Homo sapiens: one gene and its partners. The protein of the gene in region 2 interacts with the protein of the main gene of each other region in a pairwise test. Each region holds a gene or a part of one and is shown on either strand. Other genes may lie near its edges. The genes, in order: SPDYC, LZTS1, ELOA and TBC1D1.

Region 1 (7,651 bases), on a different chromosome or scaffold from region 2:
GATGGTTTAGAAGCTTTTTATTTGTTTGTTTCGGTGTGGGGGTGGGTAGGGTTTTGTGTTCTCCCATTGCTTGGTTCTCTTCGGACCCTCAATTTCTCCCTTCTGCATTTTCCCACTTCACTTACTCAATTGCCCACGGATGCTTCTGGCCCATTTTAGCCCTTTTTTTTTTTTTTTTACCCCTCCCGCGGAATCAGTGGACTTTAACGACCTCCCCTTCCTATCGCACATACTTGTAAGCCCCTTCCCTGAGGTCTGAGCTCTGACTTCCCAGGACGTCTTCTTGGTATTTTCAGATTTTAGAATGTCGCAGTCTTTCTGATAGTTGCTCTCGACCAACCCCAGCCCGGATCGATACTCCTTTCTCCCCTCCTTCCCCAGCTTTTCTTGGCACAAAGCCTCGTGCCTGGGAGAGGCCGCAGCGCACGACGGCGTGCGGGGATATGGTCGCTTTCTTTTTATTTACATTTATCTTGAAGTTTGGACCTTCTCTGCTTTCAAGTTATGCCGACGCTGTGGTTTTGGCAGCGTTTTATTTTTCCTTTCTTGTTGTCTGGGGCTGTGTGGACAGCAAAAGTTGGCGGATGGGGACCCAGGCAGCCCCTTGGGCCTCAGGACCCGGAAGTCCCCCTGGCTGGCTTGTGACTTTTTAAGATGGAGTTCAGTTCATCAGCGTGACAGCTTTTCTTATTTTCTAACACGCGCGTTTGAGGTCATAAATTCCTCTCTAAGAATTACTAGTTGTGTCCTCCAACTTTGACAGACAATATTTTCTTTCTTTCTTTTTCTTTTTCTTTTTCTTTTTTTTTTTTTTTTTTTTTTTTTTTTTTTTTTTTGAGACGGAGTCTTGCTCTGTTACCCAGGCTGGAGCAGTGGCGCGACCTCCGCTCACTGCAACCTCCGCCTCCCGGGTTCACGCCATTCTCTTGCCTCACCCACCTGAGTAGTTGGGACTACAGGCGCCCGCCACCACGCCCGGCTTTTTGTATTTTCAGTAGAAACGGGGTTTCACTATGTTGGCCAGACTGGTCGCTAACTCCTGACCTTGTGATCCGCCTGCTTCGGCCTCCCAAAGTGCTGGGATTATCGGCGTGAGCCACCTCGCCCGGGTACATTTGATTAATTTTTAGGAAGATGTTCTGTGCGTGCTTTCCTGCCTTTGTTGGGTGCAGTGCCAGCTTATTCGTCCACTAGGTCAAATTTCTTCATCATATTCTTCATATCTTTTACTGCTTTGCTAACTTTTTTGCCTTGCATGTGCCATCATATCTACAATTATGATTGTGATTTGTTTTTCCGTGTGGTTCTGTTGATTTTACACACACACACACACAGACACACACACATGCGGTTTCTTGCTTATTGACTTTATTTTTAGGAGTAAACAAATTACTATATATTTTTTTCTTTACCTGGATTCTGGTTAGGTAATTATACACTTTTTTTTCTTCCTTCCTTCCCTCCCTCCCTTCTTTCTTTCTTCTCCTTCCTTTTTCCTTTTATTTTTCTCTTCCTGCCTCTTTCCTTTCCTTTATTTTCCCTCCCCTCCTTCCCCTCCTCTTCTTACCGACAGGATCTCCCTATGTTGCCCAGACCAGCACTACAGGTGCACACCACCACATCCGGCTGTATATTTTTAAAATCACTACATAAATTCTCTTTCTCCCTAGTTATGCTTTTTGTCCAAAGTTGTGTTTTTTTGTTTGTTTTTTGTTTTTTTTTTTTTTTGAGACAAGTTCTCACTCTGTCACCCAGGCTGGAGTGCAGTGGTACAATCTTGGCTCACCAAAACCTCTGCCTTCTAGGCTCAAGCGATTCTCCTGCCACAGCCTCCCAAGTAGCTGGGATTACAGGCATTCGCCACTACCACCCACCTAATTTTTGTATTTTTAGTAGAAATGGAATTTCACCATGTTGGCCAGGCTGGTCTTGAACTCCTGACCTCAAATGATCTACCTGCCTCGGCCTCCCAACGTGCTGGGATTACAGGCATAAGCCACCGCGCCCGGCCTAAAGTTGTTTTAATATATTAGTGTAGTTATCCCAGCTTTCTTTTAGTAATTGCATATTATTTTTTCTATCTTTATATTTTGAAATTTTTAATATTCTTATTTATTTATTTATTCATGTTTTAGAGACAGGGTCTTGCTGTGTCACCCAGGCTGGGTAGAATGGCATGATAATAGCTCACTGCAGCCTTGAACTCCTGGGCTCAAGTGATCCTCCCACCTCAGCCTCTTGAGTAGATAGGACTGCAGTCACGTGCCACCATGCCAGGCTAGTTTATTTTTGGTAGAGATGGGGCCTTGATGTATTGCCCAGGTTAGTCTCTAACTCCTGAACTCAAATGATCCTCCTGTCTCGGCCTCCAAAAAGTGCTGAGATTATAGGCGTGAGCCAATGGACCTGGCCATATATATATTTTTTGAGCTGGTAGTATGTTATTATGTTTTATGTGTATTCTTTTATATCCTTTTACGTGTATCCTTTATAGCATGCAATATTAATATATGATTTTACAAATTATATATACATTTACATGAATATAAATTTTATAAATAGTATATTAGTTAGCATAGAATAAATTTTGCTGTGATAATTGTAGCAGGCAGAATAATGGACTCCCAAAGATGGCTACATTTCACTTCCCAGACCTGAGAATATGTTATCTCACATGGCAAAAAAGACTTTGCAGATGGTTAAGGATCTTTTTTTGAGACCAAGTCTTGCTCTGTTGCCCAGACTGGAGTGCAATGGCATGATCTCAGCTCACTGCAACCTCCACCCCCAGGGCTCAAGCAATTCTCCTGCCTCAGCCTCCCGAGTAGTTAGGATTACAGGCATGCACCACCATGCCCCGCTAATTTTTGTATTTTTAGTAGAGGAGGGGTTTTGCCATGTTTACCAGGCTGGTCTTGAACTCCTGACCTCAGGTGATCTGCTCTCCTCTGCCTCCCACAATGCTGGGATTACAGGGGTAAGCCACCTCTCCCAGCCAAGTTAAGGATCTTGAGATGGGGAGATTATCTGGGCAGATTGAAGAGCCCAGTGAATCATGGGATTCTGAAAAGTGAAAGAGAAAGGCTGGGCATGGTGGCTCATGCCTGTAATCCCAGCATTCTGGGAGGCCAAGGCGGGTGGATCATGAGGTCAGGAGAACAAAACAAAACAAAAAAATTGCCAGGCATGGCGGCACATGCCTGTAGTCCCAGCTACTCGGGAGGCTGAGGCAGGAGAATTGCTTGAGCCCTGGAGGTGGAAGTTGCAGGGAGCCGGGATTGGGCCACTGCACTCCGGCCTGGGCAACACAGCGAGACTCCGTCTCAAAAAAAAAAAAAAAAAAAGTAAAAACAAATATTCTCCCCAGTGTGGGAGATCGGTGTCAGATCTCCAGGGGTGGCACTGAAGGAAATCAGCCTGAAGGCCCTCCCAAAGTTAAAGTGACTAGCCCACTCCCAGGCTTCTTTTTGGTACACCTTCCTGATCTCTAACCTTAATTACTGGGGGAGGAGGAGAACAGTTGAAAACACAGCTGGTCTAGGAGATTCATTCGGTTTCATGGAACACCTTCTCTGTGCAGGCAGCGTCCAGGAACAGCTGTAGACCACACAGCCAGGCTACCCAGCGTGTGGGCCCAGCAGCCAGGCTGGAACTCTATCTCTACTTACCAGCTGAGTGGCTGGCAGGAAGTTACTCAGCCTGTCGGTCAGCAACCCAAACTCTGTGTGTTAGTTGTTTGTTCGCTGACAAAATGAGGCTTCTCATCATTCTCATCAACTTCACGGGCTTGCTGTGAGGAACACGTGAGCTGATTCCATCACAGACTCCTCAGTAGGCAGCAGTAGGTGTTTAGTGAACGGGCTATGGATGCTGCCCCACTCACTACTTCCTTTCTAGGGGAGGCCGACTTCAAATGCGTGCACACACACAAACAGGATGGCCTGATGCAGACCAGCTGGTCTAGAAAGGCCTTCACGGCCTCAGGGAGCCTGGGAGGCGGCCTGGGGGAGACCATGAAACAGCAGATACACCAGAGACCAGAGATCAGAGAGAAAACAAAGGACCCAGAGATCCACAGACATCCAGACACCAGAGGCAACAAGAAACTGAGAGACTCAGAGGCCCACTGAGACCCAGGCAGCTTGTTCTGTGTTACGAGGGGAAAAATAAAATAAGAAACAAAAGAGAGACTCGGGGGGCCTCAGTGAAACCTAGAGACTCAAGGAGGCCAGGAGATTCAGAGACACCCATAGAGAGCCAGAGACCCTGCCCTAGCAAGGCACAATCAATGAAAAAAAACTCGCCCACCAGGCCCTCGCAGTCCGGGTCTCATATCCCGGCTCAGCACCTTGGCGCTGCATTTGTCAAGAGGGGAACAGGGATCCTAGCTCCCTGCCTGTCCTATGGGGCCTTAGGCCCTGGGGTCCAGCTGGCCTGCCTTCACCCCTCTTGTAGTTGATGAAGCTTTGGAGAGGCTTTCAAACCCTGGGGAGCCACAGCTGGGTGCCGACTGGACTCACTGGCAGAGAGGCAGGCGGTGAAGGCCAAGCCTCGCCCCCCAGGAAGGCCCTGATTGGTGGACGGGCTGCTTTGGGCAGGGCCGCCCTCAGGCTATATAAGCGCACTCGCGGCGGCGTTGGTGTTATGCTCTGGGCCATTCCTGAGCTCGGGTAAGGCTCGCTGCAGGAGGAGGCTGGGTTGCTTGCGGGCGCCTAGATGGAGGGGCCCAGATTGGCCCTGGGGTGGTCGACCGCACGTTCTCCTCGGCCCCGTGGTTGGCTTCTCTCTCTCAGGGATGAGGGTGGGTTTAGGACGGGAGCTTGAAATGTTTGAAGTGGCCCCATCAACTTGCTCTAAATCCAGGTATTTTTCTAATTTCATTCCTCCCTGAGGGCCTCAGTTTCCCCTCGGTGTAAGGGATCAGTGGCCCTTTCAACTCTGCTTTGGTGAGGGGTCGGGGGTGGTTGTGAGTTGGGGCCTAGAGGAGCAGTTAAACTCTTGGGTTTTTTTTTTCTTTTTTTTTGGCCAGGCGCAGTGGCTCACGCCTGCAATCCCAGCACTTTGGGAGGTCAGGAGTGTGAGACCAGCCTGGCCAACACGGTGAAACCCTGTCTCTACCAAAAAAATACAAAAAAAATTAGCCGGGCGTGGTGGCATGGCGCATGCCTGTAATCCCAGCTACTCGGGAGGCTCAGGCTGGAGAATCAGTTGAACCCGGGAGGCGGAGGTTGCAGTGAGCCGAGATCGCGCCACTGCACTCCAGTCTGGGCGACAGAGAGAGACTGTGTCTCAAAACAAACAAACAAAAACCAAAAAACCTCTTGGGGTTTTGGAGACCAAGGGCTTCACTTTTAACCGGCTGTTAGGCCTCAGCTTCAGTTTCCTCGTTTGACGACCGGTCTGAGTTAAACTTACCTCCTTACCAGGATGGAATAAGATAAGGCCCTTAAGCACAGCCCCAGGCACTTAGGAAGCCCTCAGCGGTGCTTGTTGCTGCTGTTACTCTGGCCTGTCCTGGGGTGCCAGGAGGAGGGTGAGGGTGCCACACCCTCACCTATAGCAACTCTTTGCTTCTTTTCTGGCCTCCCCACTCTTGTTGCATCCCGGCTGCCTTCTGTTCTGAGCCCCCAAGTCTCTGCACCCACCCCTCCACCGTCCTGGCCCCTGTCACCACCCTCTTGATTTGTGAGCATCACGGGGGTACATGCTAAGTCCTGAGCCTCCTTTCTCTACAGGTCACCCTGCCCCATCTCCATCTCCTATGAGATGAGTGACTCCCAAGACCCCACCACTTCCCCTGTAGTTACCACCCAGGTAGAGCTGGGGGGCTGCAGCCGGCAAGGTGGGGGCAATGGGTTCCTCCGTTTTCGCCAGCACCAGGAGGTCCAGGCCTTCCTCAGCCTTCTGGGTGAGTTTGGAGGGCTGGCACGGGAGGGGCCGTGAGGTCAAGTGTGAAAGCAGATGTGAAGTGTGGGGTCTCACCTGCCTGTACAGACATCTGAGACCTCTGACCCTCTCCCTCTCAGGTATCCCAGCTTAGGCAGGTGGGAGGGGTGTCCTCTCAGAAACTGGATTCAGGGCCAGGCACCGTGAGTCATACCTATAATCCCAACATTTTGGGAGGCTGAAATGGGAGTATCACTTCAGGCCAGGAGTTCAAGACCAGCCTGGTCAACATAGTGAGACTCCATTTCTATTTATATTAAGAAAGAGAGAGAGAAAGAGAAAAAGGGAGAAAAAGAGAAAGAGAGAGAGGGTTCAGTGGTGGCTTGGGCTTTGGAGCTTCTGATGCCACTCTTCTCCATGGAGGTGGTGGTAACCTGCGTCCTGTCATGTCTTCTCTACCCTCAGAGGACAGTTTTGTCCAGGAATTCCTCTCCAAAGACCCCTGCTTCCAGATTTCAGATAAGGTGAGGGAGTACAGGCTGGGGGTCTCTTGAGGGTCAGGTTGAGTTGGTGGGAATTGAGTGCCCTGGTCTGGTAGGGAGAGCCACTCACCTTCCATCCTTACCCCCTCATCTTTGCACACCACTTCCCACCATTTTACTGACTTTCTTTCCCTGCAGCAAAACCTCCCTGGGTGCAAATGAACCTGGGTGCAAGCCCCTCCTCCTCAGAGAATAACTAACCCCCCACCCCGATCTGTCTCTGCAGTATCTCCTGGCCATGGTGCTGGTCTACTTCCAGCGCGCCCACCTGAAGCTCAGCGAGTATACCCACAGCAGCCTGTTCTTGGCCCTGTGAGTGGTGGGGGCAGGCAGTGGAGGCATTTGCTGGAGGTGTCAGATGGGACAGGGCAGATGTGTGGCCTCTGCTCCCTGACCTTGTGCCTCTGTGGCTAGGTACCTTGCAAACGACATGGAGGAGGACCTGGAGGGCCCCAAATGTGAGATTTTTCCATGGGCCCTGGGAAAAGATTGGTGTTTACGAGTGGGGAAATTCCTGCACCAGAGGGATAAGCTTTGGGCACGGATGGGTTTCCGGGCTGTTGTGAGCCGCCAGTGCTGTGAGGAGGTGAGGCTGGGAGGCAACCTGGGGTGTGGGGAAGGCTGGGGTTCCCACCCCATTTACTGTCCACTCTGCTCCTCCCAGGTCATGGCAAAGGAGCCATTCCACTGGGCTTGGACTCGGGACCGGCGCCCCCACCATGGTGGGGTTCAGAGGGTCTGTCCACAGGTCCCTGTTCGCCTTCCCCGGGGCCCTGGCCTCTCGCCGCCCCACTGTTCCCCCTGTGGTTTGCCCCAGCACTGCAGCAGCCACTTGCTTAAGCCTGTGTCATCCAAGTGCCCTTCTCTGACCTCTGAATGTCATCGCCCTCCCTCCCAAAATTATCTCTCAAGGGTCAAAAACGCCTGGGGTGGGGACTTTCTCATCGTCTTGCCTCCCCAGATGCAACTGGAACCAGGCACCTACTCCCTCCGCAGTGAGTGCAGGATGGGACAGGAGCTGGGGGCTGGTGTGGGAGCTTGGGAGGCAGGAGTGAGGACCAACAATATGAGAGAGAGGGCCATGGGCCTGGGGTCGACGTGCTGCCCCTCCCGTGTGAGCTTGGCAGGTTTCTTCTCTGAGCCTCACTCTTTCCTCTCCCCAGTCTTCCCAAAGCCTCCGGCACGCCCTGGGCACTGAAGCTCTGCAGGGTGAAGAACAGCAC
Region 2 (7,291 bases):
TCTCTACTAAAAATATAAAAGATTAGCCAGGCGTGGTGGCAGGCGCCTATAGTCCCAGCTACTTGTGAGGGTGAGGCAGGAGAACTGCTTGAACCCAGGAGGTGGAGGTTGCGGTGAGCCAAGATCGCACCACTGCACTCCAGCCTGGGCGACAGAGCAAGACTCCGTCTCAAAAAAAAAAAAAAAAAAAAAAAAAGTGGGAGCCAGTTAAGTGGAGAAGGTAGAGAGACCAGGCAGGAATATTCCATGCAGAAGAAACAGTGTTTCTATGTTCAAAGGTAGCAGAATAACATGGACAGAGCCAGGGTCCAGAACCTTACTAAGCTGATCTCAAATCCCTGCCCCTCGGTTTTGTAGCCTGGCTAAATTACTTAACTCTCCTCATCTAATAATTATACATACCCCGCAGGGCTGCAGTGAAAATTAAATGAGATAATGAATAAAAAGTTCCAGGCACACAGTGGATTTAGTGGCTGGCATTAAGTGTTACGGTATTATCCATTACACTGGTCTATAAGGTGCTTACCCATAGGTCTGTCATCATTACATTATTCATCTTCCTAGCCTCGCTGCACAGCTCAGAGCCTTGCATTTGGTAGGCGCCCAATGAATATTTATGAAATGAACGTTGAATAAGCGCAAAGGCATATAAATAAGTTTTCAGGATTAGAAAGCCATTTATATACGTCTGGAGCCCATGTATAGCTTTGCTATACACGCTGACCCACGGCTTCTCAAAACTGAAAGGCACATCTTTCCCTCACACACTCCCAAAGCATTGGCTTTCCCCAGGGCACCCCACGCAGCAGCACTCCTTCTATGACAGCACCCCTGCCCCACATCGACCCAGGCACACACAGCTGGGGGCACCTCCTGCAGATACACAAATGCACAAGCTGAACTGCTGAGACAGGTTTACCTCGTGAAGCACACAGCCGCTGCTATAAATGTTAACTAACAACCATCTTCAGCACATCAAATGTCCCGCCCTCCCTTTTGCTTGCATATAGACACCCACAGAGATGCCCGTTCTTTTTCTACTAGTTTTCTTCTCTTCTTAAGCAGAGTGAGCGCCCCACACTCACATCCACCCAGCTGAGACCTCTTACTAGGACTCCCAGTTGCTCCATCCTATTAGCTGTGGGACCTTAGGGAAAGCCTTTCCCTTCTGACGCCTCCGTTTCTTCACTGGCAGGCACAGAGAGCCCACCGCACCAACCTGGTAGTTATGTTGTGAGGATAAAGGAGATAACGTATGAGATAACGTCTATGATGAGCAGAAAGAGCCTCCAAAGAAAAGCGCTGGATAAATACAAGGTGTAACGCCACGCCTGATTAGCCTGCATGCTCTCTGCCCACAGACTTCTACCCACAGACTATGTTCCACTCCACTCTTAAACACAAACACCTTTCCCGTCTGTACATGCTATCTCTAATACCCATATGCGCACACTCTTCGGGCACCTCCATTCTCCCTCTGGATGCCTGCAGAAAATTGTTTTTGAACTTAGAGAAAGCTCAGGTTGCAAACACCCTCTTGCCGGTACCCGCAGACTCTTCTCAGGGTCTTGGTGCAGGAACTGCCAAGCAGATAGCTCATCTCTTTGTGGCTGGGCTCCTGGGCTCCCAGCATTCCTATTAGGCTGCACTTCCAGCAGAGTGTGGGATCCTTATTAGGAGCAGCGCCTGCCCGGCATGGTCCAGAACTCAGTGCCTCCTCAGTACTTTCCCAGCGCCCGGGACCAGAGAGTAGAGGGGCTGATGGCAGCGGGACGGTGTGGAGGGAATAAGTGAGACAGGAAACACTTTAGGAGGCCAGATCCCTAAGCACTTCTTATTCCTGGGAAATTGAAGACTGCGAAGCTAACAAGTCTGGAGCACTTTCCCAGGCCTGACATACTCGTGGGCGAGCACAAGGCTCATTTGCTCCACAGTTCAAACCTTTCCACTTGGAGCACGAAAAAGAGACATCACCTGGCCCTTGGTGTCTCGGGGATGCCTGTTGCTGCCAAGCTGCGACCTCTGAAGCCCCTCCAGCCAGAGCAAAGCCTGTGGCAGGGTGGAGGGGTGAGGTCTGGCTGCCTAGGGTGGCGGTGGAAGAAGTGAAGGTAGTGTGGGGCTGTCTGTGTGTGCATGGTGCTTTGACTAAATTCCTGAATTGCACATCCAGGACCGACCCCAGGAAGCTGCAGCCCCAGGGAGCCACTTAGACACTTCGATTTACCACCTTCCTCTCTAACCACCTCCGCCCGTGTGACTTATTCCTTGAGGGAAACCTTTCAAATCTCTGGCTGCAACGCACCGGTGTCCTCCCCACCGGTGTGGACACAGCTCATCTGCAAAGTTCCAGGCGGCGAAGTTCAGCGGCCCGGACCGACCGCCGGACCCTCTTCCTGCGGCCCCTGCTCCTGCGGCCTCGCGTCCCCACCTCCCACTTCTTCACCTCCGACACCAGTGTCACCTAACACTGACGTCCCCGCCAGGATCAGCATCGGTGCTGGGAATAGACGAACCCCGTCTGCAGGAGACACGAAGACAAAGACAGGAGGACAGACGCACAGTCACCTCCTCTGGGCCGGGCCGGAGAAGCGGCGCCCACCCTGCAGAGGGGAGACCCTGACAGCTCCACGCGGAGACAAAGACACCTCGACAGCCACGGACACAGACAGACAAAGACCGACGGACGCGCGGACGCACGGACGGTCCGGCCCGGCGAGGGGAAAGCGGTTTCCCGCAGCCAGGGCAGCAGACCCTCCAGGGGCGAGGAGATCCCCGGCCACCGCACCTTACCTGCCCCCTGCGCCTCGGGCGCACTTGAGACTTTTTTTTTTTCCCAGTGTTTCCCGGTGTGTTCCCGTCTCTCTTTTTCCAGAGCTGCTGAGCGGGCCGGGCCGGTCCCACTGCGCGGGATGCAGCTCCCGGCTCCCACTCACTGGCCGAGGCGGGCAGAGAAACTTTCGGCCTCCCCGCCCGGCCGCTGCCAACCCGCCAGCTCCAGGCGCGCCGGCCTCTGCGCGGGTCCCGGAGCCGGGGCGGGGCGGGGCGGGGCGGGGCGGGGCGGGGCCGGCCCGGGGCGGGGCCAGAGCCGGCGCCGCTGATTGGCAGCGAGCTGCCGGCAGCCTGGTCTGTGCCGCTCGGCGGCCTTTGTTCCGGGCTGACAGCTGGGGCTGCTCGCGACCTCGCGGCTCCTTCGCGCCCGCGGCCTGCGCGGGGTCCCGGGTCCCGTCTCTCTGCTCTCACTTCCATCAGCCCCATTGGGCGACCCTGCCCCCTCAGTCTTCCTTTCTTGCCTGGCCCCCTTTCTCCGATTGTTCCTGTCTTGCTCTTGTCGCATCCTTTTTTCCCTTTCATTACCTGAAATTCTTACTCCAGTTTTGTTTAAAATCCATTCCTTCTCCCGTTCTGTGTATGTTCCCCTTTCTTCATTACCCCTTCCTCTTAATCGCCAGTTTATTTTTCTTAATACCGTCTCTCCCGCTCCCGACTCGCACTAAAGGGCGTGTGTTTTGTTCAAGGACTGGACTAGCACCCAAGTGAGGGGCATTGCGAACCACACCAGGATTACAGGCTAGAGTCCAGAGCACCGGGACTCCCACTCCCAAAACATGTCAAAAGCAAACTTTTCCAGCTCTGAGGGAGCTGAGTTTCAGGTGACAGCAGAGGCCTGTTTCAAGTTTATAGCTATTAGTCTCACCCAGTCCCCTTATAATACTATCATTTTCTCAACCACCCTCACTTTTAACTTCTAGCAACTGAGCCAGGAGAGGATTCAAGCTTACAAGGTTTTGTAGGACAAAGGGTCAGTTAACCGGAGTGCTAGGTGCAGCATGAGGCTTGGGGGCTTGAGGGTGCACTGAGGCTAATCCTCTAAAACCAGGCTTGGCGGGAAGATGGCAGCTCTGCCCAAGGAGTGTTAGCCTCATCTTGAAAGAAGCCTGTGTGTGTGTGTGTGTGTGTGTGTGTGTGTGTGTGTGTGTGTTGGGGGGTGGGGGATAGATGTAATGGATTAGGATTGACATAGCCGATCTGATTATAAATAGCATGGGGGCCGGACGCGGTGGCTCATGCCTGTAATCTCAGCACTTTGGGAGGCCGAGGTTGGTGGATCACTTGAGGTCAGGAGTTGAAGACCAGCCTGGCCAACATGGTGAAACCCCGTCTCTACTAAAAAAAAAAAAAAAAAAAAATACAAAAATTAGCTGGGTGTGGTGGCAGGAGCCTGTAATCCCAGCTACTTGGGAGGCTGAGGCTTGGGAATTGCTTGAGCCTGGAAGGCAGAGGTTGCAGTGAGCCAAGATAGTGCCACTGCACTCCAGCCTGGGTGACAGAGTGACACCGTGTCTCAAAATAAATAAATAAATAAATAAATACAAAAAAATTAAATAGAATTGTGGTGGCAGGGGGGACAGCTCAAAGGAAAACAAGCCATATGGTTTCTGCCACACCCCTGCTCAAAACCCTGTAGGGGAATCTCACTGCCTTCGGTTGTTGACCCTGAAGACTCTGACCTTCGAATCTAGGCTTCCTGAAAGATGGCACCGCGAGGGTTTAAGAACACAGACAGGCTTCGCTGCTTGTTATTTGAGCCATTACCTTCCCCTCCCTCTTTCTCAGTTTTTCTTTTTCTTTCTTTCTTTTTTTATTTGTGAAATGAGGTAACAAGTCCCAGTGTAAATTCCCTGAAGGCAGGAACTTGTTCTCTTTTATTGGTGGCTGAGGGACTTGGTCTGTTTTATTCATAGATGTATCCCCGACACCTAGAACTTGCCAGGCAACATAGTAGGCACTCAATATGTATTTGTTAAATGAATGAATTTCTCATGTATAGGTTTGTTCTGATGATTAAATGAAACCCACTGCCTTGCGGTAAGTACATACACGTGGCAGTAATTACAAGCAATACGACAATTTCTAAGTGTCAACCCCAAAGGCTACTCAGCCTTTTCCTGAACATCACCTCCTTTTCCCCACCTTTGTATAAACCTGCCCCTCAGTCTGAAAAGCTTTTCTCCTGCTCTTCTAACTCTACCTCTCAAAATCTGAGACAAAATATGGAACCCTTACTCACACCTTCTCTTATCGTCCAGGGCAAAATAATGTCTTCTTTTTCTAAAGCGCCATGCTTCTTTGTGTTGCATTTATTGACAGAGAACATGTATTCTTGCTTGCTGGTGAGAGTATCTCAAGAATTTTAGCTGAATGAGTTAATATCGATCAAACATTCCAGCGCTTTAAGGAAAGAGCAGACTCCTGGAAGGTAGATTAAGGTATGAGGTGGGCTCCAGACTTCAAACTCATTTTCACATCGTCGGAGGTGAGATTCCATGGAAGAGACAAAGGACTCTGGAAGCCCACTTTTTGTTCTGGCCCTACTGCTGACTATATGCTCTTGGACAAGCCATGTCCCTAATGAGGCCTCAGTTTCCTCATCTGGAAAGTGGATGGTTTGGAGTCCCTGATGAGACCTCAGTTTCCTATCTGGAAAGTGGATGGTTTGGAGTCCCTGATGAGGCCTCAGTTTCCTCATCTGGAAAGTGGATGGTTTGGATGAGAAGATACTCCTTAAGGACCCTCCTTCAGCACTGACACCTTTGTCAGTGACATTCTAGGTGAAAGCTGGGTATGATGTGCAGCCTTCCTGGAATGACTGAGTCAGGCAAAGGGTATGAGCAGTGTGTTGGTTTGTGTATGAGCGGTGGAAATGGGATACCCTATGGAACAACAGAAACACCCTGTGGAAGGGATACTTTAGAGACAGAATGCATAGAGAGTGGGGCTGGAAATGAGAAGGCAGAGTGGAGAAGGAGACCAGTGATGGACAGCACAGCATGTGTGTATGTATTATGGTTCCGTATGTGTGCATGAAAGCCTCAGGAATGTGGTCTCCAGCAGCACAAAGCCATAATTAGCTCCCTGATTCAGCAGTTGGGTATGGTAATGCAATGGCTGGGTGTGTCTACCCCCAACACCACCGGTAGGTTCTCAGTGTGGCTCCTTTTCTTCCTTGTCTAGTGAAGGGGCGCTGCCCTTCCTTAGTGTCTGGGTTCCCGAGAGGTGTCTTATGTGAAACTCTGCATCCCTCAGGCTCTCCCTTGCCTGAGTCGAGTCTAGAAAGCTGGGTCACAAAACATTTCTTGTAAAAATCTCCTACCCTCCTCCTGTATTCATCACCTGAGATACAGAGCATCATGCTTCATCTCTAGGACCTAAGATTGGCCACACTGGACCAGACCCATAGACCAGTTAAGCCAGCAGCTTGTTTGGATTACAGACAACTCTGCCTTCCTCAAGGTACTGTCACCTATCACAATTTAATTAATTCCCTGGCTTCTTGTTTGTCTGTTCATCTCTTCTGCAAGTTTCTTGTTCAAAGATCATGTCTGTCTTAGTCAACATTGAATCCACAGAACTCAGCACATTATTGGTACAAAGCAAGCGCTCAAAAAATACTAGAATGAGTGCTATGAGGGGAGGGAGGCGAGATGATGTTTCAGAGAGATAAATTGACTCAAATTCAGAAAATCCACGTGTATTCCTACTTCTTCCAATCTGCAGTCTTCTCACAACCCTTTGGAGGTTTAGTTTGCTATCAGTGAAAGAAGCCTAATAACATTTTCCCTATCTATCTTTTGGCAACAATACAAAATGAAAAGAATTAATAAAGTCAAAGGTGTTATGAAAAATACAAAATATCAAATAATTTTTTAATATTATTTCAAGTCTCAAAATCCAGGGCCTTGTGTTAAGAGAAAAGAAATGCTGACTATATTTAAGTGAGGTTGGATAATCTCCAAAAGCCGGTGAAAAAATATGAGCCTAGACAACTGAGCAAAGCTTTAAGGAATCAACTGAGGCCACTCCTGATTTCCCAGTGACCCCAGTAAAGGTCCAGGGAGAGCAGTTTTTCTGCAGTCAGAGCCAATGGTCCCATGACCTTAGAAGATGTCTTACCATCCCTGTCTTTTTCCAGGGTAGAAAACAGTTCCCGTGGAGTTGCTTTGAATGTGCAACTTTTATAACAAGAATTTTCATTCCTTACCTGTAGGTCTCTGACCACCTTGAATCTCTTATCTCTGGGCTTCAGGAGACTTGTCTCTGAATTGGAAGGACCATCTCTTTTTTCTTTAAATTTATTTATTTATTTTTTATTTTTTTTGAGACGGAGTCTCGCTCTGTCGCCCAGACTGGAGTGCAGTGGTGCCATCTCGGCTCACTGCAAGCTCCGCCTCCCGGGTTCATGCCATTCTCCTGCCTCAGCCTCCCGAGTAGCTGGGACTACAGGCGCCCACCA
Region 3 (7,022 bases), on a different chromosome or scaffold from region 2:
ACATAGGATTTTTGTCTGAAAGAAAAAAATGTCTAATTTTCATAGCAAAAGAAGTAGAAGCCACATAAGGGTCTATCAGCAGGAGACTAACAGATAAATCATGGTTCATCTACACAGTGGCATCCTATGCCACAGTAAAAAAAAAATGTGGAAAGTCTATGCACTGACATGGAATGATCTCTCAGATGTGGCAAATGAAAAAAAGCAATGTATGTAGTGAGTATGTTATTAATTGATTCATTGGCTTAAAAGGAATAAGATACATTTGCTTTTTTTTGTTGTTGCTGTTGAGAGTCTTGCTGTGTTACTCAGGCTGGAGTGCAGTAGCTCCATCTTGGCTCACTGCAGCCTCCACCTCCTAGGTTCAAGCAATTCCTCTGCCTCAGCCTCCTGAGTAGCTGGGACTACAGGTGCATGTTGGGCAGGCTGATCTCGAACTCTTGACCTCAGATGATTCATGTGCCTTGGCCTCCTAAAGTGCTGGGATTACAGGAGCTTATTTTTAAATTCTCTGGAAGGATCTACAAAAATCTGTAGCGTGGATTGCCATTGGGAAAGGGAAGTAGGAGGCTGAAGGGGGTAGAAGGAGAGTTTTCACTGGATCACTTAGGGCCTTTTGTGTTTTTCTTGCCCTATAGCGTTCTCTTCACCCCAGGAAGAAGAAGAAGCTGGATTTACTGGGCGCAGAATGAATTCCAAGATGCAGGTGTATTCTGGTTCCAAGTGTGCCTATCTCCCTAAAATGATGACCTTGCACCAGCAATGCATCCGAGTACTTAAAAACAACATCGATTGTAAGTCACACGCTTCTCTCTAGCTCTCAAGCACATTGTAGCACTTGGACCTTATCACTGGGTGGCTTGGCTGCTACTCAGTGTCTTCACCTTTGGTTTCTCTGCAGCAATCTTTGAAGTGGGAGGAGTCCCATACTCTGTTCTTGAACCCGTTTTGGAGAGGTGTACACCTGATCAGCTGTATCGCATAGAGGAATACAATCATGTGAGTATTCTGTTTGGGTGGGAAGAGGGCAGTTTTCTGGCTTGTACCTCCAGAAATAGCTTTGTCCCTGTGACTCCGCTGTGGCTGAAGGGCAGATCAGTGGTCAGAGCATTGTTCTGGATATATTTGGTTTGCCACTGGGCCTTTAAACAAGCATGTTATTAGCACTTGCTCCTGGCACCTTAAGTGGGCCTCTTGGGCTAGGATCAGGGTGGGATTCAAAGGGAGAAGAAAAACACTTAACATCTCCCTTGAGCTTGCCTAGTCATGAAGGTAAAGGGAGAATTCTGGCAGCAGAGTAGCTGGGACCCAGGGCGGGGAAAGCACTTTGTGTTGACACTCTGACATCTGGTGATTGGCTGGATGTCTCTTAAGAAACATCAAGATTTATCCAGAATCCTCCTTAGGATGTAGGGTATACACATTTGATTGCATCAGCTGTCTCTCTTTAATTCTGAAAGTTCTATGACCTAACACCTTTTTTTTTTTTTTTGGAGATAGGGTCTACCTCTGTTGCTTCGACTGCAGTACAGAGGCCTAATCATGGCTTACTGCATCCTTGAACTCCTGGGCTTAAGTGATCCTCCCAAGTAGCTGGGACTACAGGCACATACCACCACAGCTGGCTAATATTTTTATTTTTTAGAGAGATGGACTCTCAGACTCTTGGCCTCCTGAAGTGCTGGGATTACAGGCATGAGCCAACGCGCCTGGCCAATAACTTAACATCCTTCTTAGGTTGCCCCTTTGCCATCACAGTTCAGCGTAGTGTTGGGAAGTACCTGATTTGACTTGATCGCAGTTCTACCCTTTGCTGATTTTCTAAAGGAAAAGACTGATGTTACACAGATTTTTGTGATATTCTGTCACAGCCACCAAAAGCAACTAGCATAGTGCCTCACACTTCGCATTTTTAAAATTTAGGGAGTTATTTTTTTCCTAGAATTGTGGTATTTTAACATACTACTAAGATGAAGACCAAAAAATTTTTGGGAAACTGGTCACTCCTAGGTAATTAAATAATCAGAAAAAGATATGAGGCTGGGCATGGTGACACACGCCTGTAATCCCAGCACTCTGGGAGGCCAAGGTGGGCGGATTATCTGAGGTCAGGAGTTCGAGACCAGCCTGGACAACATGGCAAAACCCCATCTCTACTGAAAATATAAAATAGCTGGGCGTGGTGGTAAGCACCTGTAGTCCTGGCTACTTGAGAGGCTGAGGCGTGAGAATCGCTTGAACCCAGGAGGCAAGGGTTGCAGTGAACCAAAATTGCACCACTGCACTGCAGTCTACACGACAGAGCAAGACTCTGTCTCAAAAAAAAAAAAAAAATATGGAAAAGTGCTTGTACACAAATGATGTCCTGGTTCTGGTTTCAGGTATTAATTGAAGAAACAGATCAATTATGGAAAGTTCATTGTCACCGAGACTTTAAGGAAGAAAGACCCGAAGAGTATGAGTCGTGGCGAGAGATGTACCTGCGGCTTCAGGACGCCCGAGAGCAGCGGCTACGAGTACTAACAAAGAATATCCAGTTCGCACATGCCAATAAGCCCAAAGGTAACAGAGACGGGAGAGCTGGGGGAGAACTGGCAGGATGAGTGTTCTGGTCAATAGCAGGGTGTTGGTGGGCTTGGCTGGTGTAGGACTGCTTGCCCCTACATCAGGTAGCAGGGTGGGTATTTCTTCTGCCACCGCCCATTCTACCCTACAAGTGGGGTTTCAGGGCACTCAAAAAGCCCGTGGATTATTTAAATAACAGTAGCATCTCTGCTCAAGAAGGCAGATGTTCATCTCCATAATTCCACAGGCCGACAAGCAAAGATGGCCTTTGTCAACTCTGTGGCCAAGCCACCTCGTGACGTCCGGAGGAGGCAGGAAAAGTTTGGAACGGGAGGAGCAGCTGTCCCTGAGAAAATCAAGTAAGATCTGTGTTCTTACCTGGCTTTTGTGTGCTATCAACCCTTAGAGGTAGCCATAGCGGCAGGAAGCAAATTGCTTTTGGTGAAAGTGAGGCAGTGCAGACTGTGGGCTCTGGAGGCAGACCTCATCAGCTCAGCACTTCCCTCACCTCCCTCAGCCTCCGCTTCTTGGACTGCAGTGCAAGGTGATAATTACCCCTGCCCTAGGGTAGTCAAGATTAAATGGAGAGCAAAGCCTGGCTTATGGGAAACATTCCCTTATGCTTTCCCTTTTCCCATCTAAACAAAAAACACATTTCTGCAATGATTGTTATTTTGTCTAAGCCACATTAGCCTTTTCAAAATACAGATTTATACCAAAACAGTGAAAAGTTAGTTGAGATTATCATTTTTTCTGAAAGGATAATGGAGACATCTCTGAGCCACCACCAGAATCCAGGGTGATAGGGTCCATTGGTCAAAGCCACAAACAGGGTGAGTCATCCTCACACAGGCCAGCTTCAGGCTGTTCATGCTCAGGGCAGATTTCTTGTGCTCATGCCTAACCAGTGTTGTCCTGTGTTGCAGGATCAAGCCAGCCCCGTACCCCATGGGAAGCAGCCATGCTTCCGCCAGTAGCATCAGCTTTAACCCCAGCCCTGAGGAGCCGGCCTATGATGGCCCAAGCACCAGCAGTGCCCACTTGGCACCAGTGGTCAGCAGCACTGTTTCCTATGATCCTAGGAAACCCACTGTGAAGAGTAAGTAACTTGGAGTTCCTGCTCAAATATTATTTCAGCACTAGTTTTTAACTCTCAATGTCATTATTCACTGTATTACATTTTGTGGACTGCATGTTGCATGTACATGATGCCTTGCACATAGCTGGTCTGAATGTCAGTCCCTCCTTCCCCCTGCTTTGTCCATAGTGCATTATATCTCTTAAATAGTTATAGTGAGTCTGGGTGCAGTGGCTCATGCCTGTAATCCCAGCACTTTGGCAGGCTGAGGCAGGAGGATCCCTTGAATCCAGGAGTTCAAGACCAGCCTGGACAACATAATGAGACCCTCTACAAAAAATTAAAAAATAGGGCATAGTGGTACACACCTGTAGTCCCACCTACTCAGGAGACTGAGGTGGGAGGATTTTTTGAGATGGAGTCTCGCTCTGTCACCCAGGCTGGAGTGCAGTGGCACAATCTCAGCTCACTGCAAGCTCTGCCTTCCAGGTTCATGCCATTCTCCTGCCTCAGCCTCCCAAGTAGCTAGAACTACAGGTGCCCACCACCATGCCCACCTAATTTTTTCTATTTTTTAGTAGAGACGGGGTTTCACCATGTTAGCCAGGATGGTCTCGATCTCCTGACCTCGCGATCTGCCCGCCTTGGCCTCCCAAGTGCTGGGATTACAGGCGTGAGCCACTGTGCCCGGCCGACCCTGTCTCTGGAAAAAAAAAAAAAAAAAAAGTGAAAGTAGAAAATAGTATCTGGCCAGGCATGGTCCCTGTCTCTATTAAAAATAGAAAAATTAGCCCACCATGGTGGCATGTGCCTATAATCTCAGGTACTCGGGTGGCTGAGACAGGAGAATTGCTTGAACCTGGCAGGCAGAGGTTGCAGTGAGCTGGGATTGTGCCACTGCCCTCCAGCCTGGATGACAGAGTGAGACACTGTCTCTAAATAAATAAATAAATATCATTGTGAATGACCATTTTGGCACTCTTCTTTTTTCACCTAAATATAAACTGACTTCTCTAGGCAATACCACAGTGTTCATAATTACTAATATTAACAGCTAAATGACAGGCCCTCTTACTGTTTTTTTATAGTCTTATAACTCTAGCTTCCAAATATTTATTCTTTATATCTAATTGGGTCTTCCAATTTATTTATTTATTTTTTTTTTTTTTTTTTTTTTTTTTTTTTTGGAGACAGAGTCTCACTCTGTCGCCTGGGCTGGAGTACAGTGGCGTGATCTCGGCTCACTGCAACCTCCACCTCCCAGGTTCAAGCGATTCTCCTGCCTCAGCCTCCCAAGTAGCTGGGATTACAGGTGCCCGCCACTAAGCCCAGCTAATTTTTTGTATTTTTAGTAGACACGGGGTTTCACCATGTTGGCCAGGCTGGTCTCGAACCCCTGACCTTGTGATTCGCCCGCCTCAGCCTCCCAAAGTCCTGGGATTACCAGCGTGAACCACCATGCCTGGCCGGGTCTTCCAAATATTTATTCTTTATATCTAGTTGCGTCTATTTTGTATTTTGTTAACTTTATTACCATAGACTATCCCCAGTATCCTAAGGGGATGTCCTAACTTAAGTCTTATTCTGTATTAATTGCAGGGCCCATGGGAGGGTGGGAGTCCTGGCTTGAGCTACAGCTATGCTCAGATGAACCATTCAGGAGGCAGGCTGGCCTTCCTTAGGCAGTACTTGCATAGCCACCTTAGACCTGTTTCTACACTGGACAGATTGGGGGTAGACGTGCTGTTTACTGGTTTGGCTATTTGTGAGGCAAAGTTAAGTTATGACTGAGTATGGCCTTTAGAGTCTGGCAAGGGCCGGGGCACAGTGGTTCACACACACCTGTAATCCCAGCACTTTGGGAGGCTGGGGTAGGAGGGTGCTTGAGCCCAGGAGATCGAGACCAGCCTGAGCAACATAGTGAGACCCTGACTCTACAGAAAATAAAAAAAAATTAGCCAGGCATGGTGGCACACTCCTGTAGTCTCAGCTACTCTGGAGTCTAGGAGGTAGAGGCTACAGTGTGCTGTGATTGTGCCAATGCACCCTAGCCAGGGTGACAGAGTGAGACTCTTTCCTTACAAAAATAAAAACAAGAAAGTCTGACAGAGATTGAATTGTAATTCTGTACCTTACTGTACAACCATGGGCAAGTTGGCCAGGCTCTCTGAGCCTTGGTGCAGGTGGTTAGAGAGAGTGGTGGTCATGCCCCTGGCAGGTCCTCCGAAAGTGTCTGCTCTGTGCTGTTGCTTTTATTGCATTGTGAACAGAGGAGATAGTTACTACTTGTATCTCTGCCTGGTGGTGCACAGCCAAGAATAGCAGAGCTGGCTTTGACTGTAAACTACTGGGGGTGTGTCTAAGCCGCCACAGATCTGAGACAGCTGCCTTGTTTCTCTTTTCACAGAAATTGCCCCAATGATGGCCAAGACAATTAAAGCTTTCAAGAACAGATTCTCCCGACGATAAACTGAGGACTTGCCTTGGAAATGGAATCTGGGGAGGCAGGAATACAAGGACAGTGGGGGTTGGGGAATGGAATTCTACAGGAGACTGGAGTCTTGCTTTGTGGATCCTTTTGGTCTCCGAGTCCTGCAGTCTGCAGGTGCTGCCCCTGGGAACCTGCGTGCCACAGCCCCGCCTCCCTGCCTGGAGCACACTTTAGAATTCTGAAGATGTGAAGCCTCTGTCTCACTGAGGATTTTAAAGGTCAATTATACTTTTGTTGTTCATTAGCATCTTTGTAAACTATAAGACGTAGTTTTAATTAATAAATATTGCCCCCAGATTGTATTTATATTATCCCCCAGGTTTGTTTTTGTTTTTTGTCCTCTACCACACATTTAGCCTTTTATCTTCCAGGTCCTTATTAAAATCAGATGAAAGCCTAGTGAAAGCCAGTCTCCTGCCCCAGCTCAGCTCTGTGTGGACTCTGGTCCAGACAGAGGACTGGGCATCTCCAGAGCCTGCACAGTACCTGCTGCACGTAGGGCAAGGAATGAGCACTAGACCGCCTGTCCCCAAGGGAGCCTCAGTGGGGCGACAGGGTGCTCGGCGGACTCCACCTCAGGCCCTCCCCACTGTTGCTGTGCATTCCTGTGCAGGTGCATCTCTTTCTTACTAACTGGTATTTATTAAGGGAGGTGCTCTGTAGGTCTGGAGCCTTTCCCTCATCCTTTTTGCGAGTCCCCACCTTTTTGTTTTTTTTTTTTTCTTTGAGGCTCACTAGAGGACGCAGAACCTTGGGAGATTGATTTGCACAGAACTCCCCACCTCCCACTTTTACAATTTCCAGTTTCTGATTGAAAATTTTAGGGTTTCTCCCCACTGCCCTTCCCTATCTTTCCTTCCCCTCAACACCATGAAGGAAAAACACACA
Region 4 (7,022 bases), on a different chromosome or scaffold from region 2:
CACTGCAACCTCCGCCTCCTGGGTTCAAGTGATTCTCCTGCCTCAGCCTCCCAAGTAGCTGGGACTACAGGCGTGCTCTACCACGGCCGGCTAAATTTTGTGTTTTTAGTAGAGGCGAGGTTTCACCATCTTGGCCAGGCTGGTCTTGAACTCCCGACCTTGTGATCCACCCGCCTTGGCCTCCCAAAGTGCTGGGATTACAGGTGTGAGCCACGGCGCCCGACCAGTTTTTGACATTTCTAAGCCAAAAGTTCCATTTGATGAGGTCTTAGATGCAGGGGCAATGTGTCCCTTTTCAGATTTCAGATGTTTAGAAAAAGATGTGTCATATTTGGGCCAACTGAAAAACTCTTGATATGTAGGTTTTTATGAAGCTGTGCAGAATGTAGGAAATACATTTTAGAACCAACAAAGAGGCATTTAATTTTGAGTGTGCCTGTCTCCTTTGAGATGAGCAACAGCTATTTTTCTCTTCAAAAGACAATGCGTGTATTTATCAGCACATTTTATATAATCAGCAAATCTAAACCTCTGAATTAGGTAAGCCCTATAGGTTTGTTGCCAGAATTAGTGAATTTATACATGCAAAGTGCTTAGAACAGTGCCTGGTACACAGTGAGCACTCAATATTATTTATTGCTATTATTATGTTTATTTATTTTATACTTTTAGAGTATAATTTTGATGTTAGGTTTGGATTGCTGAGGCCAAGCAAAATTTAGATAGACCAACCCAGCTAATCCACTAGAAAGATATTTGAGGGTTATTCCCATCTAAAGATCTATGGGATCTTTGGATATCATCTGTGAGAAACAACAGAAGTTTGTAGATAAGACAGATATAGATTCAAATGCCACCTTCACAATTTATTAGTGAGGGAACCCTTTGGTAAAATGAGCATGACAAAACCTACTTCTCAGCTTTGTGAACGTACAGAAGATCATGAATGTAAAATGTCCATGAAGTGGTAGGTGGTCAACAGATATTGCTCTAGCAAAGTGGTTAAGAGCAAGCAAACTCTGGAGCCAAAGGGCCTGGGTTCAAATCCCGATTCTGCCACTTCTTATAGTATGGCCTTGGGCAGGTGACCTCACTTTTCTGTGCCACTATTCAATGATAATATTCCTTTATTGTCCAACGTTTTGTAAGTTAAATCAGTTAATAAACACACTATGATAATGTGTTGGTAACTATTCTTTTTACTTTTAGCAGAATAACTTAAAGGAACACTGCAGGTAGGAGGGTTATACATAATCTCTGAGGGCCAGCTAGGACACTCGCCCATTTCCCACCCTTTTTCCTGTGCAATGAAGAGTATAAGAAGTGACAGTGCCATTCTAAAGGACTAGCCTTGAGTTGGCTCTAATTTATATGACTCGTGCCTGTAATCCCAGCACTTTGGGAGGCCGAGGCTGGCAGATCACTTGAGGTCAGGAGTTGGAGACCAGCCTGGCAAACATGACGAAATCTCATCTCTACCAAAAATACAAAGATCAGCCGGGCATGGTAGCACACACCTGTAATCCCAGCTTCTGGGGAGGCTGAGGCAGAAGAATTGTTTGAACCCAGGGGGCGGAGGATGCAGTGAGCTGAGATCACGCCACTGCACTACAGCCTGGGTGACAGAGTGAGATTCTGTCTCAAATAATAATAATAATTTATATGAGAAAGAAGTCATTCAAAAGCATCATTACTTTACATGTCAAATTAGAAAGGCACACCCCAGTACTAAAGCATCCTTGATGATGAAAACATTTAGAACCACTGGTTTCAGGAGCTCCATGCAATGGTGAAACAGCCTCTACTCCAAGGGTTGTTGCTCCCTGTGGGATTCCTGGGTGAGGAACACACTGCTCCCGTTGGGGTGGAATCCTGTGGAGGAAGTGGATGAAGAGTGTAGCCAAGTCAGTGAGCCTACTGCATGGGATTAGAGTACTTCAGGTTGCAGTATAATTCTGTTCAGGTGCATGCTCACTCCATCTGGCGTAAAGAACAGAGAAATTAAACCATTGATTCACAGAGCAATATGAGTAGCTGCCTGGGGACTTCCTGTCCATTCTGGGGTCCCCAACAGCCAATCAATATTGGCCGGTTCCTAATCTGACCTAGAGCTAGAGGCCACTAGCACCCCTCCATTCATCCTTTCTTCTCTCCCTACCCACTCCCACCAGCATTCTGAGGAGGTGAGGGCTGAAGCTGCAGAGGCTGTTGTACTGTCAGTTACTGTAAAGTCCCCATCCTGCTCTCTGTAGTTTGCTGTGAAGGAGTGGAGGGGGCTGGGAACAAAGGGGGTTCCCAATAAGCAGCTTACTAATACCTACCCTTGCTTCTCTCACTTCCTGATCAATAATTCCCATCCTTTCTTCATGTACCTCCCCCACATTTTTGTTCTTTAAGGGAAGAAGGGAGCAGCTTTCCATCCCCACACAATGTTGGGGACATTTGGTATTATACATTATGAAAATAAGATTTACCAGATTTTAGAGATGGAAGAAAACTTGGGGATGATCTTGTTCCATTCTCTTATAAGAACAAACAATATTTGGAGAAGCTGAGTAACTTGCTTTTTCAACTTCACACTTGAAAGTGTTTTCATGAGGAAGTTGGGGTTCTCTGCAGCACTTGGATGGGAGTCAGGGACTTGGATTGTCCCAATTCTGTCACTAAATTTGGACAAGCCACTTAACTTTTCCAGAATCTAGTTGCCTCATTTCAAATATTAGGGAAATTTCTAAATGGCTTAAAAGGAGCTTGTTAGCTTTAAAATTTTATGATTCTAAGTGTATGCTGCCAGAGATATGTAGCATAGCAGGACACATTAACAAGATTATTGAAACTGTTCTAATAAAGGACATCTTTGTGTCTTGGGTAGCTACTATGTTTAAAGACTGTGCTAGGTGGGAGTTGTGCAGAATACACAGGTTTGCTGTAGAGGGATAGGGCGTGTACACAGACAACTCTACTAACAAGAACGTTACTAGAAGCTTATTGGAATCACAGTATTTCTTGCTGAGGGTATGAAACATAAGAGTTCTCCTTGGAATATGAGGTTCTATTTGGGGCTTAAAGAATGGTCAAAGGTTGAGTGCAAATAACATGGATTGAGATGGCTTTAAAAAATAATCAAATGGTTTGTTAGTATTAAACTGGTGCAGAAATAATTGCAGTTTTTGCCATTCCTTTTAATGGCAAAAATTGCAGTTACTTTTAAACCAAATCCCTAATATTATTTGCATAGTTTATCTCTGTTATGGAAGTTTTTATTGACAAGTAATGTAGATATTCACCTGATCTAAGTTACCCTGAATCTTATATTAGCAGAATCTGAATTGCTTATAAATAATTATGGCTATGTTGGATGTAGAACTTATTATTTGATAGTTTATGAACAGTGCTAAGGTCTAATCTACTTTTTACAGAGAAGCTAAGAACATGCTACAGCTGGTTGAAAAACAAAAACTTCAGGCATTGAAATGTTTTGTCAATGAAATGGCAGGACTCATTTGATGACTGATTATTATCAACTGATTTAAATGACTGAATTTTTGGTACTGTGTACATCTATACTCTAAGAAGGAAATTGAAAGTAATTCTGCTATGCTTGTTGCCACTATATTAATAACTGCATCATCTAAAATAATTGATAGAGCTCAGATTTATCCTTTGTAATAATTCTAGTACTTCTTTAAACATGTTTTGGGATTAGCAGCTGTCAACAGTTAGAACATGAAACAGATTCTGTTACAGGAGTAGAAGTCGATCCAGACATTTAATGTCATTTTCACCTGTGAGAGAGAGAATAAAGAGAAAGAGAGATCATTATTTATGGGATTATGTGAACTTCAAGTCCGTTTTCATTATTAGGAGAAGCTGTGCTTTAAAGGACAGTCAGGGACTTTACTTTCATGAAATGCCTGAGCTGTAAATAAAGTATTGCTTTATTTTTTATTTCTTGAACATTTGAAATAAAAAATTAGCTATGAGTTATGTTCAAATTATATTATAAAAATTTGCTCTTAGCATTGTGCATATATATTATACAGAAAAACACAGAGTAAAAAGAATAGACTTCAGTTCCTGTTCAGAAAAGGTTTAAAATTTGAATACTGATTTTGGAAACCCCAAACCTTAAGAATTCAAGAAGCTTACGGTCTTCTTGAGGGACACCTATTCAAACTCTTAAATATGGTGATTGGGTAGAAAGTGCAGAAAAGCCTGCTGATACATGCCCTAAAACACCTTGGAAAAAAGAGGTGGTAGTTGCTTGAGGTAGGACTTAAGTACTAGTTGGAAATAGAAGACAAGGATGGAGACTGTTGGTAGATGACTCTCCATGGGTCCTTCCTGTTTCTACACACCTTGTAAGCAGGGCATTGAGTGCCTGTGTTCCAAACTACCTTTTCCATCATGTTTCTACAGCAAACAGTCATGGAAGATAGAAATAGAGTCTTCCTCTGGAGCAAAGGGCAGACACGCTTGCTTCCTGTACTTCCCACTATAAGATATTCCGGCTCCCTAAACTCAGCTGCCTTTCCTGTAACCCACCATGATACAGATGTCACCTGACCTGTGGGAATTGGGGGTCAGGGAACCAAGAGAAATGCTGACTGTCTGGCTACTGTGACTGCCCTGAGTAATAAATTGTCCTTCGTCTCCAACCCAGGAGTCTCATGTTTTCTACCAGCAGGATAACTGTGGCGGGCTAACGTGTTAGTTTGCAAGTAAGGTAAAATCTCAGACCCTTTGCAGTTTGTGGCAGGGATTATATTCTGAGGAGAGAGGAACCGTATGCACCATGGCTCAGAGGCATGAGAAACGGGGAACCATAACTAGTTCTCTATCTTCAGAGCCTTTAAAAGGTGCACCAAGGAGGGCATTTTAGGGGAGAATATAAAGTTGGAGATATAGACACAGCCAGATTCCTGAGAGACCTTATATGCCAGGTAGAAGACTTCAGATTGTATGGGGGAATTATTAGAGAATTTTTAGCAGGGGTGTGATATGATAAATTTTGTGTTGATTAAGTTACTCCAGGAAATATGCGATGGGTGGATTGAAGGATGGGGCACCTTTTCTCTAGGACGAAAAAGAAAGAGTAGTTGGTGAAGTCAGTTAGAGGTAGTAATAGGATGAAGAAGGGATCTGAATGACCCCTTGGCCATTCAGTGAGTAGTGATGCTATTCACCTAGATACAGCACATAGGAGGGAAAAGAAATTCTGGGAAGGAGGGAGATGAGACCGAGTTAGCTTTAAAATAACTAAATTCAGGCCTAGGAGCCTATAGGCTATCCAGATAGAAATATTTAATGGCCTATATGGATCTGGAACTCAGGAAGGAGGCTTCCGTGGGAGCAGAACACTTGGGCACCATTAGGGTGTATGTGGTAGATGCATTCTTGTGCAGCAGTCAAGGGGATGGGATTTAGACTCAAGTGCAAATTGCCCCCCATCTCCTGTGATAAGTGACTGAAGCTCTCCGGGCTTCAGTTTCCTAGTTCATCATAGTGGGCTCTAGCGGATAAATGTTACAAAGGTTAAATGAGACAACATAGGCAAAGTGCGTGGTACTCAATAGAAGTCAGCTGCTGTCATCAGCAGCAGGATCACCAGAATGTGGTGCTTGACACCAAAAGATTAGGTGAGATTGCCCAAAACAGCAGGTGAAATGAGGGGAGAGGATGAAGTCAAACACAGGAAGAAAAGCCTTTGAAGTATGTGGAAAGAAACAACCAGAAAGGTAAGATAAGAACCAGAAGAGATTCAAGAAGGAAGGTGTGGCCGGGCGCGGTGGCTCAAGCCTGTAATCCCAGCACTTTGGGAGGCCGAGGCGGGCGGAACACGAGGTCAGGAGATCGAGACCATCCTGGCTAACACGGTGAAACCCCGTCTGTACTAAAGATACAAAAGAATTAGCCGGGCGCGGTGGCAGGCGCCTGTAGTCCCAGCTACTCGGGAGGCTGACGCGGGAGAATGGCGCGAACCCGGGAGGCGGAGCTTGCAGTGAGCCGAGATCGCGCCACTGCACTCCAGCCTGGGCGACAGAGCGAGGAGCCGTCTCAAAAAAAAAAGAAAAAAAAAAAAAAGTAAGGAAGGTGTGGCCAAGATTGAGAAATTCGTCAGAGCAAACAAGGCAGTCAGGGGCTAAATAGCCTCCTTTAAATTTTACAACCTTGAGGACCTCGGCAACTTTAACAGAATTTCAGTGGATCCCTAGGGCAAACCAGGCCTTACAAACCAGGAATGGATGGTCAATAGGAAGTGGAGACAGTAAGTGTAGACCTTACCTTGGAGGGAAGGAAGAGAAAGAGCCATGGCCAAGGGAAGTTTGAAATCAAAGGAAATATCTTTTTTTTTTTTTTTCGATTGGAGAGACCTCAGTTATTCTTTTAAAATACTTATTGAGCCCCTCAGTTATTCTTTTAAAATACGTATTGAGTCCCTACTTTGAGTCAGGCACTATGGCAGACACGAGGGAGATAGCAGTGAATCAGACAGATGCAACGCCTGCCTTCATGGAGTTTCACCTTAGCATCTGTCCATATGCTAGGGGAGTGGGGCAGGGGCAGGGAGCTGGATACAGGAGAGACTGAAGATCCAGGGAGCAAGTGAGTAAAGAATAGGGCTTGAGATCCCACAGACAACTCAGCTTTGAACAAAAGGGTTTTGTCATCCAATAGGACAAGAAGGCGTTAGGATACATCAAACGTGGTTGTTGAAAACAGAAAAGGGCTGGGCACTGTGGCTCATGCCTATAATCCCAGCACTTTGGGAGGCCAAGGTGGGCAGATCACTTGAGGCCAGGAGTTCGAGACCAGCCTGGCCAACATGGTGAAACCCCATCTCTACTAAAAATACAAAAATTAGCCAGGTGTGGTGGTGCATGCCTGTAATCCCAGCTACTTGGAAGGCTGAGGCAGGAGAATTGCTTGAACCCAGGGGGTGGAGGTTGCAGTGAGCCACGATCGTGCCACTGCACTCCAGCCCGGGCAACAGAGCGAGACTCTGTCTCAAAAAAAAAAAA

Evidence for each region.
Region 1: the proteins of LZTS1 (region 2) and SPDYC interact in binary tests that used the Homo sapiens proteins (3 or more experiments, as listed by UniProt).
Region 3: the proteins of LZTS1 (region 2) and ELOA interact in binary tests that used the Homo sapiens proteins (3 or more experiments, as listed by UniProt).
Region 4: the proteins of LZTS1 (region 2) and TBC1D1 interact in binary tests that used the Homo sapiens proteins (3 or more experiments, as listed by UniProt).

What each region holds. Positions count from the first base shown.
Region 1 is NC_000011.10:65,165,592-65,173,242, forward strand, and holds the start of SPDYC (speedy protein C), read left to right. Parts: upstream 1-4,641; 5' UTR 4,642-4,670; intron 4,671-5,735; 5' UTR 5,736-5,766; coding exon 5,767-5,908; intron 5,909-6,351; coding exon 6,352-6,410; intron 6,411-6,654; coding exon 6,655-6,740; intron 6,741-6,842; coding exon 6,843-7,014; intron 7,015-7,092; coding exon 7,093-7,423; intron 7,424-7,591; coding exon 7,592-7,626; 3' UTR 7,627-7,651. UniProt on the Homo sapiens protein: Promotes progression through the cell cycle via binding and activation of CDK1 and CDK2. Involved in the spindle-assembly checkpoint. Required for recruitment of MAD2L1, BUBR1 and BUB1 to kinetochores.
Region 2 is NC_000008.11:20,300,950-20,308,240, forward strand, and holds the start of LZTS1 (leucine zipper putative tumor suppressor 1), read right to left. Parts: upstream 3,015-7,291; 5' UTR 2,791-3,014; intron 1-2,790. UniProt on the Homo sapiens protein: Involved in the regulation of cell growth. May stabilize the active CDC2-cyclin B1 complex and thereby contribute to the regulation of the cell cycle and the prevention of uncontrolled cell proliferation. May act as a tumor suppressor.
Region 3 is NC_000001.11:23,753,462-23,760,483, forward strand, and holds part of ELOA (elongin-A), read left to right. Parts: intron 1-638; coding exon 639-794; intron 795-901; coding exon 902-999; intron 1,000-2,381; coding exon 2,382-2,562; intron 2,563-2,812; coding exon 2,813-2,924; intron 2,925-3,491; coding exon 3,492-3,664; intron 3,665-6,050; coding exon 6,051-6,112; 3' UTR 6,113-7,022. UniProt on the Homo sapiens protein: SIII, also known as elongin, is a general transcription elongation factor that increases the RNA polymerase II transcription elongation past template-encoded arresting sites.
Region 4 is NC_000004.12:37,894,062-37,901,083, forward strand, and holds part of TBC1D1 (TBC1 domain family member 1), read left to right. Parts: intron 1-7,022. UniProt on the Homo sapiens protein: May act as a GTPase-activating protein for Rab family protein(s). May play a role in the cell cycle and differentiation of various tissues.